Homo sapiens: one gene and its partners. The protein of the gene in region 1 interacts with the protein of each later gene in a pairwise test. Each region holds a gene or a part of one and is shown in the gene's direction. Other genes may lie near its edges.

Region 1 (4,314 bases):
TCTATGTTGTAAACTTTTTTTTTTTTTGAGACTGAGTCTCGCTCTGTCACCCTAGTGATTAAACTAGTTAACTCTCTTTCTGAGTATCAAAAAACCAATCTGATCATTGGCTTGTACTCTTCTTATGAGAATATGTTAAATATAATTATAATTAGGTTCAGGACTATAACTTCTGAGAAACGTCTATTTACATAGCAAATGAACAAATATTGTGCCTGTTACATGCCAATAGAACTTTAAGCTAGAAGTATTATGTTCATGTCCTTTTTGTTTTTTAATTCATGACCACCAGTAAATCCCTGGACATTCCCACCCACCACCTGGTGGTGGCATTTGCTAAAGGGAATAATTGCCACCTCCCTCAGAGGGTTGCAGTGAAAATTAAAAGAGATAATAGATGTGAAAGTGCTTTATAATCTTTCAAGTGCCAAACACACATAAGGGATTATTATAGTAGGAAATGGTGTCTTCCAAAGAGTAATCATTTAGACAATGTTATAAACGTAATAAATTATTGGTTTCCATATTCAAACCATGACAAGTTCTTGTAGCCACGATGAGACGGAAAACTAATAATTTAGTATTTTTAGTTGATGTGTTTTTTTGTTTTGTTTGTTTTGTTTTGTTTTTGGGGTTTTTGTTTTGTTTTGTTTTGCTTTTGAGACAGGGTCTTGCTCTGTCACCCAGGCTTGAATGTAGTGGCATGATCTCGGCTCACTGCGACCTCCGCCTCCCGGGTTCAAGCGATTCTCCTGCCTTAGCGTCCCGAGTAGCTGGGATTACAGGCCCGCGCCACCACTCCCGGCTAATTTTTTGTATTTTTAGTAGAAACGGGGTTTCACCATGTTGCCCAGGCTGCTCTCCAACTCCTGACCTCAAGTGATCCGCCTGCCTCGGCCTCCCAAAGTGCTGGGATTATAAACGTGAGCCACTGTGCCCGGCCGCTGATGTGGAAATATTAATTTCACATCCCATAGAGGAATATACAGTGTTTTTGATATTTTAAAGTCGTTTTAACAGTGAGCTGTCTAGAAATTCAACCATTGTCTGCAGATTTTCTTACGATTCTGAGCATCACCCAGTGCGCTAATGGAAGGCTGAGGCTACCCCTTCGCTCTTCTCATTTTTAAGAAACTTCCAGCTATCCTTCCCTCTCCTAGGAAAGCTAACGGAATGCAGGAGATAAAATGGTTTCAGATTACATCCAGCGTGATAAACTGTGTCCTTGTCTTAATCTCGTCCAATTCCCAAAACATTTCCAGCTTGCTGTGAGGAGTTACATTCAGTGGTACAGAATGAGCCAGGCAGGCGACGGCGACTTGTAGGTTCCCCATCCCTTTTCTGAGATGCCGCGGTCAGCTCTAGAGACCTCAGGGATAGCAACAGAGCTGGAGATGGGTTAGGGGAGGATGGTGAGGACTACAAAGGTCTCCCCACCTCCCGGGGGCCGCGGAGGCGGGGCTGGATGAAGGTCGACGTGCCTCCTCCGGGCGGGGCGCTGCCAGGCTCTCAGCCTCTCTGTGGAAGGGCAGCCTGCGCCTGGGTACCGAGGCTGCTGCGCGGCGGACAGCGGGCGCGATGTATCTCCGCAGGGCGGTCTCCAAGACTCTGGCGCTGCCGCTGAGGGCGCCCCCCAACCCCGCGCCGCTCGGAAAGGACGGTGAGTAAGGAGGTCTAGCCCGGAGAGGAGGACGGGCGCCTCGGGTGCAGATTTCGCCCGCGCCAGGGAACCGGCCGGCACCCAGTTGGCCAAACCCGACCCAGAGCAGCAGAAGCCTGGATTGGAGGTCGAGGAGACTGGGGGAGACTCCCGGGAAGACGTCCCGAAGCTCCTGCAGACTTTGGAAGTAGGGAACTTTTCCAGGGTGCCTCAGAGTCCAGATTATCTGGGTTCGCATCCTGATCTTGGACAAATGGCTTAACCTGTTTCCTCATCTATAAAATGAGGGCGATGATGGTTTTCCTTTTTAATGAGTTAATGTATGGTTAAAAGCACTTAAAAACGTGCCTGGCTGACAAAGTCGCAGCTTACCACTTTTATTGTTAGAGGCACCATTCGCTCTCCAATCTCCTGAGGAAGCAGAGGAACGGTGGGAAGGTGGACGCCGATCAGCGAGCGGGCCCGGCAAGCGCTGGGAGGCAGTGAGGCAGGGCCCGCTCAGTGGACGCTGGGCGAATGTTCGTGGGGTAAATAAACCTAACCCTTGGCAGGGTCTCAGCAGCCTGAACCCCGCGAGCGCCTGGCTCTGAGATCCACAACCCCCAAAAAGGAAGCGGCCTTCGGGACACTTTCCTTTGAGGTTGCACGTCGTCCTGCAACTGCTTGGCTCTGTAGTCCAAATATCGACACCTTTGGTTCTGAGGATACGCGAGAAAAAGCAGAATACTCAGCAATTAACTAAAGGGGGAGTTGCAGTGTGAACTGGAGGCTTATTAAATAAAAACGGACATATAGGAAAGCGCTTCGTATAGTGCTGGGAACATAGTAGGTGCTTAATAGGTGTGAGCAAGGAAGATTGTTTTTCTTCTGGGACCAGGCTTGCGCTCCAGGGCGGTTCTGCCCCAGCCGCTTTTCCCTAGTCCCCATCCGTCACCCCTCTCTCTTCCACTCACGACTGGGGGACGGCTCTTAGACAATATCGTGAAGGGTTCTTAATGCTCTCTTCACTTAGCCTCACTTTCTGAGCCTTCCGAGATAATTTTACCCCAGAGGGTGGATTCCAGCAGGAGAGAAAGATGTGCGCGGAGAATTCCATGGGCCGATTTTTTTTTCACGTTGATTAGGCCTCTGTTGGTGGTGGTGGGAGGGAAGGACGGAGGTCTAACTAACTCGCTTTATTTTTCTTGTAAAATGCTGGTGGAAGGAAGTTATCCCTCAAGTATCAGAAATAAGACATCTTCGTTTTCCTAGATCTTTATTGCCTTTATTTTTCTAGATCTTTATACCAAATGATATAGAGCTTTTAAATATATATATACACTGATGAAGTAGGGAGAAGCCATTTATTTTAAACTTCGGAAGATAACGGGACTGTTCTGTTGAGAACGGGGAGAAAGATTAGTCCTCTGACCGTGGCCTTTCGTTTTATCTGTCTGCGTTCCCCACCGACATCATGCGCGCGTGCACGCACACACAAACACACACACACACACGCGCACCTTTTTTTTGTAGCTGCAGAAATTCCAAATAATTTTCTTCCCAATTTGCGGCAAAATAGAAGTAGTTTAAAAATTTTAAATACGTATCTAGCAATGCTGCTTGTAAAGGTACTGGTCTTTCTCTGATTTTCATCTAACTATTTTTGCAGCACTTAAAATGTATTTAAGAACTATTATTGATTGGAAACAAATTTGTCTTCAGTCGTGGACATTACTTAACCTTTTGTTCATACTTTCTACTTTGATGAAAAATAATTTTTTTCAGTTTTATTGAAGGAAAAATTTTTAACTGTGTCTCATCACATTTTGTTCTCTCCTTTTTGCTTTTAAAAGGGTAATTTTATTTTTTTGAGACAGAGTTTCACTCTTGTTGCTCAGGCTGGAGTGCAATGGCGTGATCTCGGCTCACCACAACCTCCGCCTCCCGGATCCAAGTGATTCTCCTGCCTCAGCCTCCGGAGTAGCTGGGATTACAGGCACGGGCCACCACACCCAGCTAATTTTGCATTTTTAGTAGAGATGGGGTTTCTCCATGTTGGTCAGGCTGGTCTTGAACTCCCAACCTAAGGTGATCCACCTACCTCGGCCTCCCAAAGTGCTGGGATTACAGGTGTGAGCCACCGAGCCCAGCCTTAAAAGGGTAACTTTTTAATGAATAAATAATTTAGATTTATAATAGATAATTGGGGAAAAACAGGTAAAATAAAAAATGGAATTCACCTGTAATCCTACCACTCAGTGAACACAACTAATTACGTTTTAGTATATTTAGTTTTCCAGACCTTTTTTTTCCCCTCATTCCTTCCTTGTGCACATTATTTCCACAAATCTTGGATAGTCCCAGAGTATTTTGCTATGACTTTTCACCTAATACATTGTAAATATTTTCTCATGTAAGTAAATATTGTTCTGCAAAAGTTATGTCTATTTGTTTCACATTGTATGAATGTGCTAAAATTTGTCTAATTAATCCTTATTGAAAAATTTCTCATTTCATTGTCTTTTTAAGTAACTTGTCCATCATTGTATTTGTATTTAAGTCTACTTAAATCTCTGGTAATTTTAGTTCTATTTAAAAAATATTTCTGATATTTTTGTCTGTTTGAGAAATATGAAGGCTATATATTCCCTATTTGATCACAGATGTACTTTTAA
Region 2 (3,568 bases), on another chromosome or scaffold:
TACAGATGACAGTAACTTGAAATGAGGAAAAGTTTTCAGTATCCAAGGATAATGGAAATAAAAGCAAATCAAAGTCAAAGAGGGCCAAAAGGAAATGCTCAGAATCCCGGCACCCCATCGCTGTGTTATTATCCATCTCCTATTTCCCATAACAACACTGCCTTCCTCAAGCAGCAGTGGAGCACCAGCAGAATGAAGGAGATGTCTCCTGCCATTCTCCTGAAAGCTCTAGGGTCTCTTTCAAACTGTTCAAAGGAACTCTACTCAAAATCCAACAACCTCTCCTCGCAAATCTCTCCATTCTTAGGTCCCCTTTAATAGGCTTTTCTCAAAACTACACATTTTGTGCTTCCCCTATTCACCTTTTTTTTTTTTTTTTTTTTAAGACAGAGTCTTGCTCTGTCACCTAGGCTGGAATGCAGTGGTGCAATCTCGGCTCACTGCAACCTCCATCTCCCAGGTTCAAGCGATTCTAGTGCCTCAGCCTCCCAAGTATCTAGGATTACAGTCATGTGCAATCATGCCTGGCTAATTTTTGTATTTTTAGTAGAGACGAGGTTTTGCCATGTTGCCCAGGCTGATCTCGAAGTCCTGAGCTCAGGCAATCCATCCGCCTTGGCCTCACAAAGTGCTAGGATTATAGGTGTGAGCCACTGCGTCCAGCCCCCTATTCACCTCTTAATACACAAACATTTATTCATCAGGAGCATAAAGAACTGTCTTTATTCATCCAACCTCCTAAATCTAGCTATATAACCATGTATCTGAACAATTCATTGATATGTACACAGCAGAAAGTTTTATCTTCAGAGAATTCGGATGTTTGCTTATATACCCTAAAACGGAAAAAATGTGACAAAATGGCATTCCATCCTATTTCCATTGTATTAATCTTTTATCATATGAATGAAAAAAACTAAGTAATTTTGTTAAAGGTTATCATTCATTTATTAGAAACATATTATTTGAAGGAGGCCAAGCAGGTTTAATGTTGTTGAGGATACATACCAGCAGACATTCACTGGGAACAGGAAATCATCCAATAAAAAGGGAAAGCCAAATAAAAATGTCATTAAATCCAGAAGATAATTATAATACTCATCTTTTATTTCTTTTGGAGAAACTGAAGCATGACTCTGCTCATGGCTGCAAAGAACCTTGGGTTCTCTCCAGGACACTGACCTCAGCAACTGAGCAAAGTTTAATATGGGAGAGAGCCAGACTGAACTTTGCTTGAGTGGTGGCAGATATGAGCATAGTTGTCAAGAAAGACATGTTAGCAAATAGCTGATGCCAATAACTGATTGCCATTCACATGTTTTCCACATTCCATGTCCCACATATACTTACAGAGAGAAAAGGATCAATTTTCTGATAAATAAAATAAACATGTAGGGCATACAGTCCAAGGTAGATATGTGAATGTTATGGTTCTTCAACTATCTAAAGATTATAATCAATCTTGAAATTACAGCTCCTATATTTAAGTAGTGAGGGAAGTAGGAAATCAAAGTCCCTCACATGGGTCTTTGAAAAATATCTCAGCCCTCAAAGCCTTATAATGCCCAATGGGTTCTCTCACTCATCTGTCTCTAACAGGACACAGTGGTGGCTCTCCATGCTCTGTCCAAATATGGAGCAGCCACATTTACCAGGACTGGGAAGGCTGCACAGGTGACTATCCAGTCTTCAGGGACATTTTCCAGCAAATTCCAAGTGGACAACAACAACCGCCTGTTACTGCAGCAGGTCTCATTGCCAGAGCTGCCTGGGGAATACAGCATGAAAGTGACAGGAGAAGGATGTGTCTACCTCCAGGTGAGACTCTTGGGCAGGTGAGGACAGGACAGATGAGGACAGCAGCTGTTCTCTCTGAGAAGTCCTAACTCAGAAAACAATGGGACAGATCAGAGAAAGGGTTAGGGACGTGGACAGGAATTCTGGGAAAGGGCAAAAAACTGATTTTGTCTTTGATGTTCTATAGACATCCTTGAAATACAATATTCTCCCAGAAAAGGAAGAGTTCCCCTTTGCTTTAGGAGTGCAGACTCTGCCTCAAACTTGTGATGAACCCAAAGCCCACACCAGCTTCCAAATCTCCCTAAGTGTCAGGTAAGACCTTCTGACTCTATCACCTAATCCTAAGAATAACCACCAGTCTTCTTTCGGGAACTCCTCTTTAAGTAAAGCAGTGCAACAGTAGATATTTGCACTATTCACAAAAAATGCAATGTATTCTCTTAAGTTGATATAATTTCTCAATGATGGGGTTTACATTGTCCATCCAGGATCTACTATTGTGCAACCTCATTGTTTAAAGGGTAATAATTTCCCTCAATAACAACTAAGTAAATATTACCCATTGCCTCTGACCTGAATTCCTTGTTATGTAATGAAATCCTATATTATTCTTGCTTTATTGAAGATAGAGATGAAGAATTATTGAAAAGTTTGAATAGAAGGAAGTAGTGACTCCTTAGTTAGAATTCCTACTGGCAATAATAAATCTCAGGTTATATATGATATAATTAATTTGGGGGGAAGATACACTTATATGCATCAATATTTAAATAGCTGCAGATCTGATAAAAAACTCTCTCTCCACAAACATATTATTACTTGGTTGGAGATACTATTCAGGAAAAAAGTTAGGACAAAATACATGTAACAAATAACTGGCACACATCAAAAAGAATGAGATCATGACCTTTGCAGGAACATGGATGGAGATGGAGGTCATTATCCTTGGCAAACTAGCACAGGAATGGAAAACCAAACACTGCATGTTCTCATTTGTAAGTGGGAGCTAAATGATGAGAACATATGGACACAAAAAGGAGAACAACAGACACCAGAGCCTACTTGAGGGTTAAGGATGGGAGGAGGGAGAAGATCAGAAAAAAACAACAATTCAGTGCAAAATTTAGTACCCAAGTGATAAAGTAATCTGTACACCAAACCCCCATGACACGAGTTTACCTATATAACAAACCTGCATGTGTACGCCTGAACCTAAAAGTTAAGTATATATATATATATTTTTTTCATTTAATTTGGTGTATATATATGCCAAAAAATAAATTAAGCAGTCCAAATTTCGGATGCAAACTCTCGGGGACAAGACGCTAGGTGTTTCTAAGTGTTTTGTTGAAAGCCAGTGTTTAAGTAAACATTATAAATTATTGTTGTTTTTGTAAATAATGTAGACTGAAATTTATTATTCATAATATACATCATTTTGTCAGCTGAAAGAAAATAAAAGTAAACAAATAAATAAAATAACTGGCATAGATTAGAGGTCACAAACAGCCTGTGCATCACTTGTAGAGCTTTCTTAAAATGCAGATCCTCAGCCGGGCGTGGTGGCTCACGCCTGTAATCTCAGCACTTTGGGAGGCCAAGGCGGGCAGATTACCTTAGGTCGGGAGTTCAAGACCAGCCTGACCAACATGGAGAAACCCCGTCTGTACTAAAAATACAAAATTAGTCGGACGTGGTGGTGCATGCCTGTAATCCCAGCTACTCGGGAGGCTGAGGCAGGAGAATCACTTGAACCCAGGAGGCGGAG
Region 3 (3,568 bases), on another chromosome or scaffold:
TTTAGTAGAGACGGGGTTTCACCATGTTGGCCGGGATGGTCTCTCGATCTCCTGACCTCGTGATCTGCCTGCCTTGGCCTCCCAAAGTGCTGGGATTACAGGCATGAGCCACCGTGCCCAGCCTATTATTGAATTTTTTAAAAATAGCCTAGTGTGTGACTAGTTGAAGGGTACAATATTATTCAGCTGTATTATGCATATTATATACTGATGCAATCACTATACAGTCTAAGTAAAATAAACAGCAAAGGGCTAGAGTGAGGAATGAAATCTAATCTGTTTCCATTGAGCTAGTAGTAAGGGAGACTTGAAAGTTGTACAAGTAGACCTAGGGGAGTCTTTCTTGAAAACAAGGCATAATAATGCCTCCTTTATCTGCCTTTACTAGGAAAGATGGGTAACCAGAGTAGTGAATTTTGTAAAATAATGAAAACTTATGCCTTTAAGCCCCTAATTTCTTTTTATGTTTTACTCTTGGGAAAACCAAATGTAATTTAAAAAAATGGCTCAGAGCCATTGTTATTTTACTCAGCATTACAGGGACTTGAGAATGTAGAGGCCCATTTGTCTCCATTACATGGCTGCAGAATGCTTTTATTGTTTCTTTCTGATTTTATTTTTTGCTTCTTTTGGTTTCCTCTGCTGTTTATCAAATCTTTCTGCTTTATGTCTATCTGCTGGTTTATAATTTGCTGCCTAAATTTATGTGTAATATAAAACTTTTCCCCTACTCAGTTCTTCCGGCAAGTCGGATCTTGTGCCAACTTATTTGTTCTTCTAGCTTAATACCAAGCCTCATTTCCACTGTTGCAATCCCACTCCCCAATGCTGGGACCTCCTCTCATTGCCTGCTTCTTAAAACTCCCTAATTCTCTGTCCTGCCCCGCTATGCCTTATGTTGCTTTCCCACTCCTGATTGAGGTACATTACTGAGAAAAAAATTCTTGCTTTTGGTATTTTGATAAAGGTACTCTACGGAAGAACTGGAAAATAAAATAGGATGGGATTGAGAGGGAAGATCTCCTCTATAATTCAAAGGAAATTCCCAGTTTTCCTTTGAAAAACTCTTTTATCAGAAGCAGCAGATACTGTTGTGCTTCAGTGTGAGGATGGCAGCGCAGTGCCCCTGTGATACTGGAGAGGGCATGCTTGATGCGCACAAAGAAAGAGAGATGGGGAGATAACTTGGGTTCAGTGGGTATCTCATGCTCTGACAGAGTGCTTCAGGAAATGGTTAGACAGTAACGGCACACTGAGTAGAAGAAAATTATTTTCATGGATTTAAACATTTGTCCTCCTTGAAGAATTTGGGCTTGGCCTGATGGATCTTCCCCAGAAAGCAATTAGACATTGTTTTTCCTGCTCTCATTCACTTTCCTAGGAAGGAAATGGTATGCTCTTCTGGAGAGAAGCCCCAGGGCCCAGTACCAGAAAGCAGCCAGAGCCACTAGCCATTACTTGGACCTTTTGGGAAGCATTTGAAAATGTACTATTTAGGGTTATTAGCCTGAGGTTCTTGGACCCCTAAAGCATTAGTTCTTAAACTTTTTGGTCTCTATACCCCTTTGTCTTTGAGGATACCAGAGAGCATTTGTTTATGTGGATCATAGCTATCAATATTTACCATTTAGAAAGCAAAACTGAGAAAACTTAAAATATTAGCCTGGTTAAGCACAATCCCACTAGCTGTCAGAGTGATAGAGTCATGTTTCCTGTAGCCTCTGGAAACTTCTACTGTACACTTGAGAGAGAATAAGAGTGAAAAAGTAATTAACGTCTTAGTATTTCTATAAAAATATCTTTGTAGATCCCCCAAACATGTTTTAGGAAAACCCAGGGATCCTCAGACCATAGTGTGAGAACTGTTGCGCTTAGGGGTTTATGAATAGAATTCAGGAGATTTGAGATCTTGGATAGGGAATAATTGTATCTCTATTTAAAGGAATTATTTCCTTCCATTAGCAATGTAGGCACAATCCATGGCAATATCAGGAGTGCTTCTGGCTTTGATAACCAATAGAACTCACAGATATGTTCATGGTTAAGTTATTGCAGATATCTTAATATTTTGAAATTGTGATAGTTATTAGACCTGACATTTTTTAGGGACAGTTTGACAGCCAGAGATAGGAAGAGATTCTGAAGGGACATAGCCCTGACCTTTGGGTTGCATCCTTCACTTTTATTCTTTTTCGATAGTCTATGAAATGAAAATCCTTTGAAAATGTTATGATGGTATAATCAAAGAGAACATTACATTAGGAATCAGATGACTTTAGTTCTAGCTCTGCCTCTAATTAGCTGTGGGATCTTGGGAGAAATTTTCAGCCCTTGTATCTGAGTGTACATGTTAACTCCTGCAGCACTTCTCCAGCTCAAGTAATCTATATAATAATTGGAAATTTTGGAATGTATTCATTGTAATTTATTAAACACCTACTACATGTCAAACATTATACTAGGCACTGGGGATTTAACAGAGAGCAGTACATGGTCCCTGCCCTCAAGGACTCTACAGTTTGGATTTTAACTAGCAAATAAGGATGTATGTAGAACCCACTTTCCAGAGATAATTGTTAGAAATTCCTGGGGAAAGTGCACCTGCGATATTTGAGCAAAGGCCTTTCCTGTTCCATATAGATTGTCATTCACATTCACATGTGTCAGTAGGGTCACTCTTGATGTTGGTTGGCACCTAGAAAAGAGTAGCCCCTGATTATCTTTCCATAATGAGCCCTCATTCAATTAACCAAACTTTATTGAGGGCCTCAAGTGTGTGGAGAACTGTGCTAGACTCTGGATTGCAGGTTCCTTTCCCTGAAGACAGTCATGGGGAAAAAAGATGCAATGAATTACAGTGTGATAAGGGCTGTAACAGAGTGTGTGTAATGTGTTATGGATGTATAGAAGAAGGCACATGTGAGCCAGTCAGATGTTGGCAGTTGTAGGAGGTTAGGGAATGCTTCATGGAATAAATGGCATAAATAACTGGGCCTTGAGGGCTGAGTGCAGTTTGCAAGGTGAAGAAATGAGAGAATACCAATGTGATTATGGTTTGGGATCTTGTCTGGTGCATCAGGCCATTTCAAACTTTGAATGAATGTCTGAGGTGAGGAGACAGTGTTTTTTGAATATACAGATATGTTGAAAATGTTAATGATGAGTGGATAGTGTTTTTGTTTTGCTTTTGAGTGTAACAACTCATGTGTAACTTTTTCTTCAATATTTGTGTGTGTGTATTTTAGAAAGAACACCCAGGTTAATGCCTGATAAAGAAAGCATGTATTACCCACGGGTACAACATTACCGAGAGCTGCTTGACTCCTTGCCAATGGATGCCTATACACATGGCTGCATTTTACATCCTGAGTTAACTGTGGACTCCATGATCCCGGCTTATGCAACTACAAGGATTCGTAGTATGTAAACATTTTAAAGACCTGGAATTCTGTCTGACACTTTCTTTTAATTCATTTTGAGACCTAGCATGTCTCATGGTCACTAAAAGAAGATTGGGAATAGGGTTGTTGAGTTTGCTTCATGGATGTGCATGTTATGGATCGATCCA
Region 4 (3,568 bases), about 98 Mb from region 1:
CCTATATGCAGAGCATAATGTTAGCCCCACAGGTCATTTATTGTTGGTTAGTGGTTTTCACTGTTCTTATCACAATGATGATAATGATGTAGTGAATATGTCATAATTGTTCAAATAAGAAGATATGTCCTTTTCTCTGATACTATGCCTTTCTCATTTTTGGGTAAGATTCTTTTATGATTTGATAGGAATATTTTTATCTAGCCGCTGAATGGTCCATGAAATTGGTAAGTCTGGGAATCTGGGCCTGAGATGCAGGGAGGCCTGCCCTTGGGATTGAGTTGAGTCATGGAGGCCAGGCCAACATGTGGAGTTTGTGGGTCAGCTGATGGGGCCCCTGGGCTTTCCAGGAATATAGAGTCACCCAAGGTCCTAGGAACTGTGAATGAGCTAATTTTGAAAGTGCCCTAGGAGCCAGTGACTATTTTTGAATTATAGCTTGAGAATGACAAGGAAAGCACCAAGATGAAAGATGAGGGTGTAAGGGAACAGAATGGGCAAGTGGTTGAAGTGTGAATTTCAGCAGGTGAACCTCAAGATGTATCTTGACATTTGATTCTTTGCATGCAGGCCTCTTTCTGGCAAAACAACACTCTTTAGCAATTCTTAGTTAGTGATTCTAGGAAATGGTGATGGGTGAAAGCCATAGAACCTAGAATTGTGTAATAGCCAGCTTGGCCCAGACCTCTGCAGTATCATTCCCTCCAGGGTGAGCCTTGAATTGCTGGAGGAAGCTTCAGAATGATTTGCTCATGGAATTGCTGTTATTCACCTTTAGTTTTGGTTGCTATTGTGGGGTGAAGAAGGAGTGTCAAAACAATAACAACAAATTATTTCCTTTTTTTTTTTTTTTTTTTTTTTTTTTGAGACGGAGTCTCACTTGGTCGCCCAGGCTGGAATGCAGTGGCTTAATCTCGGCTCACTGCAACCTCCACCTTCCAGGTTCAAGCAGTTTTCCTGCCTCAGCTACCCAAGTAGTTGGAACTACAGGTGCCCGCCACTGTATCCGGCTAATTTTTGTATTTTTAGTAGAGGCTGGGGTTTCACCACTTTGGCCAAGCAGGTCTCGAACTCCTGACCTCAAGTGATCTGCCCGCCTCAGCCTCTCAAAGTGCTGGGATTACAGGTATGGGTCCTCTCCCTGGCAGCATCCTGCTTGCTCTTTGGTGCTGGCTCTGTTCTTACCTTCTGATCTTCCTTCTGTTTCTCAGGTAGACTTCTGTCCTGGGCAAGAGTCGACCTGCCACATTGAGTATCACAATTTGCTAGGTGGTATTGTTTGTCAGTGGAAGTGAATAAATCAGAATTTCCTTAGCATGAGTTAGGTTTCTTGAGTTGTTTCATTCCTGGGGGAACTAATACCGTTAAAATTTCCTTGACATTTCAAGAAATGATCATATACCACATTGCAAATTTTGAACACAGCAGAGGCATGATTTGGGTGTAGAGACACCTTGGGAAGCATTGATTCAGACTCAGATTCTTCAGATTATCTGATCAGAACCTCTTGTCCTCTCCAAGAACCAAGGTCTGTGTATACCTTTTCCAGGACACTGGTGAAGAGAGACATTCATTTGGTGACATCCAGAAACCTCGGCTTCATTTGTTCCTTCCTTTGTTCAGCAAATGCTTATTGAGTACATAGTTTGTGCCTGGCACTGTGCTAAGTTCAGGAGGACAGAGAGGAATGTACCAGAACATTGGTTATAGGGTGCTGCAGTAGAGGCATGTGTGTGATGGGAGTGGAGGGGAAGGAAGGCTGTCCTAATCCTGCGAGAGTGGCAAGAGCTGTGGCTAGTGACTCCTCATGTAAAATTCCCACTACAGCAAACCCTTCAGCTGCTTCCTTTGTCATCTTTCCTTAACTCAATTTTATTCCTGCCTACCACCCAGGATTTGCTACTCCTTTTGTAAGGGAACTCGGGATTTGGCCTTTCAAATCTCTGTGGCAGTAGTTCTTAAGCAGGACAGTTTTGCTCACTGGGGAACATTTGGCAGTGACATTTTGGTCATGGTGACTGTGGAGGGATAACTACTGGCATCTAGTAGGAAGAGGCTAAGAATGCTACTAAATATCCTACAACATGTGCAAGGATAGCCCTAGAAGGAGGCAGCAGGGGTTTAGTGGTCAAGTCCCAGTGCTGCTCTGCAATTTAATAGCCATATGACAAAGGGCAACAGAATTGTACTTTGACAACAGAATTACACAGTGCTCAGTTTGCTCATCTGCAAATAGGAATACTAATTGTGCTTATATAATATGATTGTTGTGAAGATTTCATCAGTGAATGTATAAGGGCAGAGAACAATACTTGATGTGAGATAAGACCTTACTTAACGAGTATTTTTATTTTTAGTTTTAAACAAAAACTTTACCTTTTGACTCTAAAGAGCTTGAGTTTAGAGTATCCAGGGCAGTTGAGCTTGTAGCCCTACCTGTAAGTATGCTTTGGTGTAGGAAATGGCCATAGTTTTTGTGTTTTTCTAGTTCCTTTTTGTCCGTTGGCTTTATTTCCCATTGTCTCATCTCTTGAGATTTTTAATAGCTTTGCCTTTCATCCCTTTTTTCCCAGGGACCCAAATTTATGCCCTTAATGAGCTTTTCCCTAGAGGGCTGAGAATTATATTTATGATTTTCCTTAGCTCTGTCTATTTTGGGAATGGTGAGAAAATGGGAAGCGGGTCAGGGGAGATGTTGCATTACTTCCTGATTGCCATAGCTCCCTTCTCTGTAAAATCCCGTGAAGGATTGAGAGGCAGGTGGTAGTGCTTGCTTAGTAACTCTTCCCTTTACACCCACCAGCTCCACTCCCAAGTTGGGTGCCTACTACTTCCAAAATACCCCGTAATTGGGTCACAACATTATCTGCCTGCTTGGAATCATATTTAAAAATCAAAGCAAAGATGCAGACTATGTCAGCAGGATTTGAAATGTTTCCATCCTCTGCTTTGAGGCTTTGCAGAATTATTCTGAAAACAAAAGAAGGTAAACTTGTTATCCCAATGAGGTGGCAGTTTCTATGTGGCCTAGAATTATGCCTAATTTTTGCTTGTAAAAGGGCTCAAACCATGATCCTTTCTGACTTTCCACAGGGATGTGAGCTTTTGTGGACATCACTCAACAGATCAGATTTACTGTTGAATTTTCATAACATAATTGACTTGGAAAGCATTTCATTCAGTGTTTTGAATGGTGACTAGAGAGAAATTAAGAAGCTCAGTTGTTATATCTTTCGAATTCCTTTCCCATGACACAGTCATCTCTCCCCTGAATGAGAGCAGTGGCCTCCTGGCTTATCCAGCTCTGTTCACTCAGTTTGGCTTCCCAAGTGCTGGGCACTGTTCCAGATGCCACACGTGGACACTGACCAGGATGGCCACTGCCTCTACCTGCTCGGAGCTCTGGGTCTATAGAGAAAGGCTGACAGCTAAGGAATGAATGACGGTACTATGTGATACGTATTACTGGGAGAAATACTCAGTGCTTCCCAGACGAGCACTTATCCTGCTTGGGTGTGGGGAGTGTGTGGGGCAAAGCTTCCAGGAGAAGGGATGCTAAGTCTATTCC

The links.
Region 2: the proteins of MGARP (region 1) and A2M interact in binary tests that used the Homo sapiens proteins (3 or more experiments, as listed by UniProt).
Region 3: the proteins of MGARP (region 1) and GDAP1 interact in binary tests that used the Homo sapiens proteins (3 or more experiments, as listed by UniProt).
Region 4: the proteins of MGARP (region 1) and APBB2 interact in binary tests that used the Homo sapiens proteins (3 or more experiments, as listed by UniProt).

The regions. Positions count from the first base shown.
Region 1 is NC_000004.12:139,277,423-139,281,736, reverse strand, and holds the start of MGARP (protein MGARP), read left to right. Parts: upstream 1-1,511; 5' UTR 1,512-1,578; coding exon 1,579-1,660; intron 1,661-4,314. UniProt on the Homo sapiens protein: Plays a role in the trafficking of mitochondria along microtubules. Regulates the kinesin-mediated axonal transport of mitochondria to nerve terminals along microtubules during hypoxia.
Region 2 is NC_000012.12:9,070,903-9,074,470, reverse strand, and holds part of A2M (alpha-2-macroglobulin isoform a precursor), read left to right. Parts: intron 1-1,599; coding exon 1,600-1,818; intron 1,819-1,984; coding exon 1,985-2,112; intron 2,113-3,568. UniProt on the Homo sapiens protein: Is able to inhibit all four classes of proteinases by a unique 'trapping' mechanism. This protein has a peptide stretch, called the 'bait region' which contains specific cleavage sites for different proteinases.
Region 3 is NC_000008.11:74,356,892-74,360,459, forward strand, and holds part of GDAP1 (ganglioside-induced differentiation-associated protein 1), read left to right. Parts: intron 1-3,245; coding exon 3,246-3,419; intron 3,420-3,568. UniProt on the Homo sapiens protein: Regulates the mitochondrial network by promoting mitochondrial fission.
Region 4 is NC_000004.12:41,204,496-41,208,063, reverse strand, and holds part of APBB2 (amyloid beta precursor protein binding family B member 2), read left to right. Parts: intron 1-3,568. UniProt on the Homo sapiens protein: Plays a role in the maintenance of lens transparency, and may also play a role in muscle cell strength. Involved in hippocampal neurite branching and neuromuscular junction formation, as a result plays a role in spatial memory functioning.